Linked DNA regions of Homo sapiens. The protein of the gene in region 1 purifies or fractionates together with the protein of each later gene. This does not show direct contact. Each region holds a gene or a part of one and is shown on either strand. Other genes may lie near its edges.

What was found.
Region 2: the proteins of SLC35E3 (region 1) and VKORC1L1 purify together in Homo sapiens (affinity purification with mass spectrometry; one large-scale study listed by BioGRID and IntAct). This does not show direct contact.
Region 3: the proteins of SLC35E3 (region 1) and AMFR purify together in Homo sapiens (affinity purification with mass spectrometry; one large-scale study listed by BioGRID and IntAct). This does not show direct contact.

The regions. Positions count from the first base shown.
Region 1 is NC_000012.12:68,759,475-68,763,205, forward strand, and holds part of SLC35E3 (solute carrier family 35 member E3), read left to right. Parts: intron 1-565; coding exon of another isoform or gene 566-611; exon of another isoform or gene 612-917; intron 918-3,731. UniProt on the Homo sapiens protein: Putative transporter.
Region 2 is NC_000007.14:65,956,566-65,960,289, forward strand, and holds the end of VKORC1L1 (vitamin K epoxide reductase complex subunit 1-like protein 1), read left to right. Parts: 3' UTR 1-2,993; downstream 2,994-3,724. UniProt on the Homo sapiens protein: Involved in vitamin K metabolism. Can reduce inactive vitamin K 2,3-epoxide to active vitamin K, and may contribute to vitamin K-mediated protection against oxidative stress.
Region 3 is NC_000016.10:56,405,046-56,408,545, reverse strand, and holds part of AMFR (E3 ubiquitin-protein ligase AMFR), read left to right. Parts: intron 1-429; coding exon 430-582; intron 583-3,301; coding exon 3,302-3,342; intron 3,343-3,500. UniProt on the Homo sapiens protein: E3 ubiquitin-protein ligase that mediates the polyubiquitination of lysine and cysteine residues on target proteins, such as CD3D, CYP3A4, CFTR, INSIG1, SOAT2/ACAT2 and APOB for proteasomal degradation.

The DNA.
Region 1 (3,731 bases):
GGGTGAATCGCTTAAGGCCAGGAGTTCAAGACCAGCCTGGATAACATGGTGAAACCCCGTCTCTACAAAAAATATATAAATTAGCTGGGTAAGGTGGTGCACGCCTGTAATCCCAGCTACTCAGGAGGCTGAGGCACAAGAATTGCTTGAACTGGGGAGTCGGAGGTTACAGTGAGCTGAGATTGTGCCACTGTACTCCAGCCTGGGCAACAGAGCAAGACTCTGTCTTAAAAAAAAAAAAAAAGAAATATGAACTGAGGAAGTGGGTTAGCTTTTTGTGTCATGAATGTTTCTGAATTTTCTTATGTAATAGGTGACCTTTTCCCTTACAAAAATTAACTCAGAGTACCATTTCTTACAGACAGTGAGATTAAATATTTTTTGAATGAATAGTGAGGTGGAGGTTTGGATTTTCAAACAATTTTCAGGTATTTCTAGTAACAAAGTAGAGGAATGGTTAACAAATAACAAAAGATAATTTCAGGCCACTGGCATCTGGCTATGGAGTATGTGTTTGTACTTATTTGGATATGGGTGTGCCTGTTTTTCTCAATATTATTTCAAGTCAAGAAATGAAGTCATTGGCCGGGTGCCATGGCTCACGCCTGTAATTCCAACACTGTGGGAGGCCGAGGCAGGAGGATCGCTTGAGCCCAAGAGTTCGAGACCAGCCTGGGCAACATAGGGAGAACCTATCTCTACCAAAAAAAGAAAAAATAGAAATGAAGTTATATGTTAAAGGTCAAATTCAACTGTCCATTTGTACCATTCTGCTTGTCATCCTGTTTCTCTTCACATTTCACTCTGCCCCCACCCTTAGGCAAATGCAACAAATGAATTTCCCCAGGAAGTAAACAAGTAGGATATTTGCCAACTATCAATAAAAAACAACAACGATAAGTTTTTTAGAAAACCAATACTTAACAAATATTTATTTTGTGTCAGACACTGTTAGAAACATTTTGTATGTATTAGTCCATTTAATTCTCACAGCAGCTCTGTGAGGTAAAGTCTGTCATTTTTGTTTATAGAAAAAATAGAGGCACAGAGAGGTTAACCAACTCACTTAAGGCACACAGCTGACAAATGGGATGTCCAGATTTGAACCCATGCAGTCTAGTCCCCAAATTTGTACATCATACTACCCAATCAAGGCATCCAAATATGTGCTCTGATTTAAAACATTAATTTATTCAATAAGTATTTATTGAATACCCACTAAACCAGTCATTGATATAAAAATATTTATATACTGAACATCTACTGTGTGCCAGGCACAGGGGATACAGTAATGAACCACATAGACAAAAGTCTTTGCTCTCACAGGCTTGAATTCTGGTGAGGAAGACTAGAAATAGAAAACAATTAAATATTTATATACAGTGTTGGATAGTGTTAACTGCCAAGGAGTAAAAATAAAGCGGGGAAGAGAATGTGAAATGTCATAGACAGCATTGAAGTTCTAGGCAGGGCTAGTCAGGAAGGCATCAGTGGGAAGACGACATTTGAGTAAAGACCTGAAGGAAATGCAGTTGCTCCATGCAGATCAGGAGGAAAGAACATTCCAGGCAGAGGCAACAGCAGGTGCGAGGCCGTAAAAAAACCAAGGAAGCCTGTGTGGTTAGAGCAGGTTGAGCAAAGGAGGGAATGTGGTAGGCTGAGAAGTAACACAGAACTGAATTGAGTAGGGCGTTTATGTAAGGACTATTAAACTGAGTAAGATGGGAAGCCATTAGCATTTTGAGCAGAGAAGTAACATGATTTTACATACATTCTAATAGAAGCACTCAGTGGGCCGGGCACAATGGCACACCTGTCATTCCAACACTTTGGAAGGCCAAGACAGGAGGATCCCTTGAGCCCAGGAGTTCGAGACCAGTCTGGGCAACATAGTAAGACCCTGTCTCTACAAAAAGTTTTTTAAAATAAAATAAATCATAGAATCACTCAGGACTCCTGTGTTGAGAATAGACTTAAGAAGGATTTCTCAACCTCTGGGCTGTTGACTTTTTGGGCTAGACGGTTCTTAGTGCAGGCCTGTTTAGTACACTGTAGGATGTTTTCAGCAGGCCTGGGCTCTACCACCAGATGCCAGTAGCATACATACCCTTTGCCCAGTTGTGACAACCAAAAATGCCTCCAAAGATTGCCCACAAAGCAGAATCACCCATGGTTGAGAACTACTGGACTGAAAGAGGCACAGGAAACTCAGGAGACTGCTACGATATTCTAATTTAGAAGTAATAGTGGCTACCAGTATGATAGCAGTGGATATAGTAAGAAGTGATTGGATTCTGGAAATATTTCTAAGAAGAGCCAACAGGTTTTGCTGCCGAGTTGGATGTGGAGAAAGAGAAAACAAGGCTGATTTACATGGTTTTTGACCTGAGCACCTGGTAGAATGGAGTTGCCATCAACTAAGATAGGATACCCAGAAGGAGGTTTGGGGCTGGGGAGGAAGATAAGGTGCTCAGTTCGGGGAGTATTTTGTTGTTGTTGTTTTTGAGACAGGGTCTTGCTCTGTCACCCAGGCTGGAGTGAAGTGGCGCGATCATGGTTCACTGCAACCTCAAACTGTTGGGCTCAAGCATTCTTCCCACCTCAGCCTTCCAAAGTGCTGGGATTACAGGTGTGAGCCACCGTGCCCAGCCAGGTGCTCAGTTTTGGATAAACAAGTCAGGGTTCAAAGGTGACGTCTCAGCAGGAGGCATCACAGGGAGTGAGCAGTATGAAGCTGTGGTTTAAAGTGATGAGACTAGTTGAGATTACCAAGCAGACAAGTAGAAGAAAATAAGTCCAAAGACTGAGTGTTGGGTTTGAGTCCAGTATTTGGAATTCAGAGAGATGAGAAACTAGGTGGAGGATGAGAAGGAGCAGTCAGAGGTGGAAGGAAGGAGGAGACTGGCACAGAACCAGAGGAAGGAGGAGGAGGCGGGGTCGGTGTCTGTGTCAGATGCCGCTGGCAGGCCAAGTTCAAGGAGACTGGTCACCATTGAGGGACTGAGTGAGGTGGAGGGCACTGGGTTTGACCAGAACATTCTGCCTGGAGTAAAGTGGGTTGGGGTTGGGGTGACAGCCTGCCTGGAGTAAAGTGCAGAACTGGAAATACCACATGTAGACTGCTCTTTTGTTGTTGCTTTTACAAAAGGATTCATAAATAGTTTCTTTAAATTTGACTTCCTTCTCGTATAAATATACTTAAAAGAGAAGCTGAGGAGTAAAGAAATTTAAAGTGTTAGAGCCAGTGCACATGAAGATAGCTCATAATTGAAAATAAAACATTATGACTATTGCCAACAACCTTGGGAAGATCCTCTGTGTCTCAGGAAGTCACCTTCATGGGATCAAGCCACCATATGCCCCTGGTGACGCAGCCTGTGCTCTCCTGAGGCACTGCTGCTGCCCAGCGGGAACCTCCAGGCTGCTTAGGTGGGCTTGGAGGTCAGACAGGTCCAGGTGTGAACACTGAGCTCTGCCACTCTCTGTGGGCCTGACTAGTGTGGGAACTCTCAGGGTCTCACTCTGATCACTTATGAAATGTATGAAGTGGAGGAAGTACGATCTATGATGTTGGGTGGTTGTATTTGAGAGAATGTGTCAAGCACCAAGCAGGTGTTTATGATACATAAGTACTGCTGTTGGTAATGTTATTATAGCTAGCACATATGGTGCTTACTATATGCTAGAAGCTTTGTGTATATTAACTTATTTAATCCTTACAATAACCGTGG
Region 2 (3,724 bases), on another chromosome or scaffold:
CTATGGCCCAGTCGAATTAATACCCTTTTTCTCACTGAGAGAGGAACACGTACTGCCTGTCATAACAGCATTGTAATGCCAGTGTCTCAGTAACAGAATCCTGGTGGGTGTTAATTGGGTGTTTTTTGCCCTGGAGAATTCAGATTCCTTTCTATACCTCCGATTCTGCCCAGAAGAGGGGGGGAATCACCAGTGTTACAAAATTAGAAGATTGTTTTGCCTGTTTTAGACTGAATATTTGAACACTGCAGCATTACTAGCCACCAGTGTTAAAGGACAGATGAGGGGAAACATTTGTTTTTAGCAGTAATTCCATGCCTCATCTTTTTTAAGTGATTTGTTCCAAATGAAGCCATTTATTGACTTGATGTTCACAAATATCATTTGAAGAAATAACAGGAATTGGGGTTAGATGATAAATTCTAGGGAATCTAGGTGATTTGGAGGATTTCATTTGTTTTGCATTACAGCTAGTTGCTCTCACTAAAGGTAAATTTCCGGTGAAATAACTCAGGTTTAACTAGCTGTGTGCCCAGAATCACTGTTCCTTCATACATGTGTCCTCTCCTTAAATTCATTACTTTCAAATGATGTTCAAAGCATTGACTATTTTCATTCAAAGAAACTACATTCGGCCGGGCACGGTGGCTCACGCCTATAATCCCAGCACTTTGGGAGGCCGAGGCGGGTGGATTACCTAAGGTCAGGAGTTCAAGACCAGCCTGGCCAGCATAGTGAAACCCCATCTCTACTAAAAATACAAAAATTAGCCAGGCGCAGTGGCACACCCCTGTAATCCCAGCTACTCGGGAGGCTGAGGGAGGAGAATTGCTTGAGCCCGGGAGACAGAGGTTGCAGTGAGTCAAGATCATGCCACTGCACTCCAGCCTGGCCAACAGAGCGAGACTGTCCCCCCCCCAAAAAAAAAAGAGAGAGACTGCATTCAAAGAGGACCAAGACTACAGTGAAATTAAAACTGTTTGCTGGCTGGGCATGGTGGCTCACACCTGTAATCCCAGCACTTTGGGAGGCCGAGGCGGTTGGATCACCTGAGGTCAGAAGTTCGAGATCAGCCTGACCGACATAGTGGAACCCTGTCTTTACTAAAAATACAAAAATTAGCTGGGCATGGTGGCGGCACCTGTAATGCCAGCTCCTCCAGAGGCTGAGGCAGGAGAATTGCTTGAACCCAGTAGGTGGAGGTTGCAGTGAGCCACAGTTGCGCCATTGCACTCCAGCCTGGGCAATGAGTGAAACTCTGTCTCAAATAAAAAAATAAAAATAAAAACTATTTGTTGACTTTTGTTTTTCATTTAGTTTTGGAAAAGACTATTTGCAAAAGTACAGAGTTATCTTCAGCAATTACTTCACAACTTAGATTGGTACCAAGAGTGACAGGAGATCTTGTCTTGGAAGATCATTATTAGATGCCAACAAGGAGACCCACTGTGATTTCTGGTAACCTATTTGGGGAAAAAGACCTAATGACCTAATATGCAATTTCTGTCCTCGTGTCTTTTTCTCTAACACACAGTCATGGGTGAAACATTTCAGACACCTCAGGCAGCACTTATGGTTTCTAATTGTGAGAACTACCCTTCCATCAAACAAAAAGGGCAAGGGTGGGAGCCCCGGCTACTTGGTTAAACATTTTTTACTACAAATTCGCCCAGAAAAGGTGAAATATTTTGTTATAAAACTGTATTAAGCATGGCCTAAGTATTTATTAGGTATATGATCTGTGTAGTATGTTCCATCAGAAATATTTCTTACTAGTGCTTTAAGCTCCAGAGTAAACAGTCATTTAAAATGGAGTTCACTGGGCAGGTTTCCCCTTTAATCTAGATAGAAATACTCTTTATCAGAGATTTAAGGCACTGTTTTGCTAACTGGTAAATAAAACCAAATGTAAATATGTAAGAATGTTTATTTGTTGCACATAACTTTTTTGGTATAAAATAAATGTAGAAGTTACCTGTGGAAGTTGTGCTCCCATTATTCTTAAACTGCAGGGTTGCATTCCAAAAGAACTGAAACGAAGTCTTTTTAGACTCAGTAGGAGCCTTATATTCTTGAAGTCAATACTGTAACCTCATTTCTAAGGTATACAGGGTTGATTCTTTTTCTCTTAAATCATATGTAACTTGCAGAAGATTCAGAGTCCTCAGACCTCTAGTTCTTGGAATTCCTGTAGGTTTACGGTGTATGTGATTGTCAAGAATTAATGACAAAAATGTGTCACTGCCTACAGTTCTGTGAACACTCAGAATGTATTAATGAGCTGTTTTTCCATAGTTTTACTTTAGCTTACCTTGAATACTCCCTGTATAATCCTCTAAAAAGGTAGCATCGGCAAGAAAGATGAATCCGTTGGAAATACAGCTGAGCCATACTTCACGGAATAGAACAAGTGTGTTCTGTGCTGGAGCTCAAGACCTGTGGAAAGGGACTGCCCCCACTGGGTGCAATGGCTCATGCCTGTAATCCCAGCACTTTGGGAGGTAGAGGCGGGTGGATCACTTGAGGTCAGGAGTTCAAGACCAGCCTGGCCAACATGGTGAAACCTGCCTCTACTGAAAAATACAGAAAAATTAGCCAGGATTGTGGTGTGCGCCTGTAATCCCAGCTATTCAGGAAGCTGAGGCAGGAGAATTGCTTGAACCAGGGAGGCGGAGGTTGCAGTGAGACGAGATCACGCCACTGCACTGCAGCCTAGGCGACAGAGGAAGACTCCAGCTCAAGAAAAAAAACAATGGACTGCCCCTAATTTGTAAACCATTTAAATGTGTCTATTACATTTAACTTTTCTTAATGTTTGTCAACTAAAAGTTTTATTCATTATACTTTGACATACTGGAACACAAAACTTGATTCCTTTGAAAAACTAAAGAGAAGTTGATAAAAAAAATACAGAAGCTCTAGATTCCTAATTGGAACTGACTACACTCATTTTTAAAAAATGGACGATGCCTAATAAAACCACATGAAATTAACTTTATTCTTTCTTTCATGGAGCTTGCACAGGAAAGCTAAAAAGGAGGGTCTGTGTGGAGACACGGGGCTCAACCACAAGAGAGGGGAAAATCAAGTTCTATAGCAAGAACCATATTGGAGGCCGGGCACAGTGGCTCACGCCTATAATCCCAGCACCTGGGGAGGCTGAGGCGAGCAGATCACCTGAGGTCAAGAGTTCGAAACCAGCCTGGCCAACATGGTGAAACCCCATCTCTACTAAAAATATTTTTAAAAATTTAGCTGGGAATGGTGGCAGATGCCTGTAGTTCCACCTACTTGGGAGGATGAGGCAGGAGAATTGCTTGAACCCCAGAGGTGGAGGTTGCAGTGAGCCAAGATTGCGCCACTGCACTCCAGCCTGGGCGACGGAGCAAGACTGTCTCAAAACAAACAAAACAAACTGTATTGGTTCATTGTCTTTCAACTGACTGGACACCAAAAGGAGTATTTTTCCAAAGCGTATACTTCAAATCAGAATTGATGCACCATCCTTGCCTTACTGGAGCCCAGGAAGAGAGGGAGGACAGATTCCTTAAGGAAAGACTGTGCTCTGGGAGGGGGCAGGTAGCGTCATTTTGGGGTGTAAAGGCATGGAATGCTGATTTGTAGGCAAAGTTGTTTAAGGAGGTCCTGTCACATTCAGTGGCATCCGTTATGATAAAGCCAATAGGCTTTTACACTCATCTGTCCATTTCTGTCAAGACCCTAT
Region 3 (3,500 bases), on another chromosome or scaffold:
CAATTGTGCTAGCCCTAATAGACTAGGAATGCCAATTTCAGAGAGGAGGACTAGAGCAAGATTGAGAAAGAAACAGAACAGAACAGGCACTGTCCTGAGTCCTGTTGAAGGTGAGAGGAGAGAGTTGTATACCCTCGGAACATTGCTTCTAGAGGTTTATAATCCCAGTGCTAGGAGGATCTTTGAGAGTAAGGGATGAAAATATAATGCATATTGTTATACTCAGTAAATTAAATGACACGGATCTCTAAATATCACCTCATGCTCATATTTGGGTTATTGGAGAATAGGACCATATAGTAATGGGATGCTTTTCTGTGCTTAGCACAGAACCCTAAGCAGAGAAGCCAAGATTGACCTTGAATTTCTCAGTGAAGTTTAACACTTCCATGAAGAAGAATGAGCAGTTTCCTACTGTGTGCATTTCAGCTTTCCTTCTCGCCCACCACGCCGATGAGCAGCCACGGTCGAGTCCTGTCCCTGTTGGTTGCCATGCTGCTTTCCTGCTGTGGACTGGCGGCCGTCTGCTCCATCACCGGCTACACCCACGGAATGCACACCTTGGCTTTCATGGCTGCAGAGGTGAGATACTGGATGCAGGACTTGCTCAGATTGTATTTCTGTCTGTTTTCAAGGAAGCTGGATGTTTGACAAGTTATTTTCACCCATGAAATGACAGGTGGATATTTGGTCTTTCATTTTAACAAGCATTTCAGTTCCTTTTTGTGTGTTGGGTACTGGTACTGAATGCTTTTGTGTGGTATTTTATGTAACTCTTTCTTTACGTAGGGTATAAAGATTTTACAAAATAATGAATAAACTGTACTCATCATTTTGAAGGAAAAATCTGGTCTATTCATGAATATTTTAAGATTTAAAAATTTTTCACTCTTTTAAACCTTTCTGAAAATACCAATTTCTGTTCAGTAGAAATAAAAATTCTCCAGCCTGGCCAATATGGTGAAACCCTGTCTCTACTAAAAATACAAAAAAAAAATTAGTTGGGCGTGGTGGCGCACGTCTGTAGTCCCACCTGCTTGGGAAGCTGAGGCAGGAGAATTGCTTGAACCCGGGAGGCGGAGGTTGCAGTGAGCAGACATTGCGCCACTGCACTCCAGCCTGGGTGACAGAGCGAGACTCCATCTCAAAAAAAAAAAGAAATAAAAATTGTTTGTATGTCCTTATATTTAATGGCTATATTTGCCTTTTCTTCAGGCCAAAGGCAAAATACTTTTATCTTACCCATAATTAGTATTATTAATTAAAAAATGAGATATTAGATAAACTGAAGCTAATTGGCTAATATCAAAACACTACATTTGAACTACTCATTGGGAATTTGGTAGAGCAGAGTTAAAGTTTATTTCTGTTTGATAGCATTCATTTTTGAGTACATTTAGTAGTGTAAGTAAAATTAGAAAAGAAACATTTAAATACATAATGTTAATTATCATATTATAATATTGTAATTAAAATACAATAGTCCTAATATAAATAATAAGATATGTAATCTTAGGTGAATACTTCTGTATATGAAAAATATACAACCGTATTTCGTCTTGACAGAAAATCTGTTGAAAAATCCATTTACACTGACTTATTTGCTTTAGATTTATTGCAAAGTTAGAATGATACTTATGTTTGCCTTTTTTTGATTCTCTAACTTTCAACTAATATAATATTATCCAAACTTTGAAAAGGGTATACCTAAAAATAAGCACATTTAACTTAGGCCCGTCAGCTCATACTATAGTATATACTTTTATTTTAGCTTGTTACTGTTTATTCTTTTAAGATAATTTATCATATTACAGATTTGATATTTTAAACTAAATCATTTCTTACATTCATAGTGTTTCTCTCTCCTGTAAAATATTTTTCACTTACAAATGGGAATTTAATCTAAAACATAAATAATGTAATAGTTTTATTCTACTAGATTAAGAGGACTTTTTTTCTTAATGAAAAATATCTTTTTTTTTTTTTTTTTTTTGAGACAAGGTGTCACTCTGTTGCCCGGGCTGGAGTGCAGTTGCTTACTGCAACTTCCACCTTGTGGGCTCAAGTGATCCTCTCATTTCCTTAGTAGCTGGGACCACAGGCATGAACCACCATGCCTGGCTAATTTTTGATTTTTTTGTAGAGATGGGGTTTTGCCATGTTACCAGGCTGGTCTTGAACTCCTGAGATCAAGCAGTCGGCCTGCCTCGACCTCCCAAAGTGCTGGGATTACAGGTGTGAGCCACTGTACCTGGCCGTCAATTTCTGTAATAAAAAAAATACCCTTCAAGACCAGCCTAGCCAACATAGCAAGACCTTGTCTCTACAAAAAAAAAAAAAAAAGCCATGAGAGACTTATTTTGTCCCTCTCCTCTCCTCCCCTCTCCTCTCTCCTCTCCTCTCTCCTCTCCTCTCTCCCCTCTCCCCCCTCCCCTCCCCCCTCTCCCCCTCTCCCCCCTCTCCCCCCTCCCCCTCCTCTCTCTCCCCTCTCCTCCCCTCCCCCCTCCCCTCTCCCCTCTCCCCTTCCACTTCTTCCCCTTCCCCTTCCCTTCTGACAGGGTCTGGGGTCTGGCTCTCTCACCCAGGCTGGAGTGCTGTGGTGCGATCTCTGCTTACTGCAGCCTCCACCTCCCAGGTTCAATCCATCCTTCCACCTCTGCCTCCCAAGTAGCTGGGACTACTGGCACGTGCCACCATGCCCACCTAATTTTTGTATTTTTTGTAGAGATGGGGTTTCACCATGTTGCCCAGGCTGGTTTTGAACTCCTAAGCTTGAGCAATCCTCCTGCCTCGGTCTCCCAAAGTGCTGGGATTAAAGGTGTGATGTGGCTGGCCTTATTTTGCTTTTGATTGCTTTCGTTCTTTTTTCTGCTGGTGGACAAAGGGAGTGCACAAAGCACTAGGGAGAGAGCAGGTCCTCGTGTCTAGGATAGCAGTACCTGAACTATACTTGGAGTTACAGCATCACCCTTCTAAGTAATCAGTGATAGTGACTTAATGCTGTGTGAAATAGAATTGATGGTCAGACTACCAGGGTAAACCTCAAGATTGTAGGGGGATTCCTGGGGGGTAGGTGTAATTGGTTGTCACCTATTAACAGGACTTTTCCTCAATAAAAGTTGGGTTTCTAGGTCATAAAAATATTTTACAGAAATTTGAAGCAGAGAAAATAAAATAATGGGTAAACTTGAACAATCTGCTTTTTAATTGAACTGAGAAATGTTTGTCTTTTATCATTTTATAAAAAGTTTGGCCTGAGCAATGCTACATTTTACTAAAAAGAAAATATCCTTTTTTATAGTCTCTTCTTGTGACAGTGAGGACTGCTCATGTGATTTTACGGTGAGTGAAATTGGGGAGGGAGGTGATGGAGGCCTACTCATACAGTTGATTTTAAGATGTAGCAGGTATGAAATATATAAAAATCGGACTAAATTACAACATGGTTAAACCAAATTCAGTAGTAACAGTAAATTACTAAGGTGTTTTCTCTCTTCATT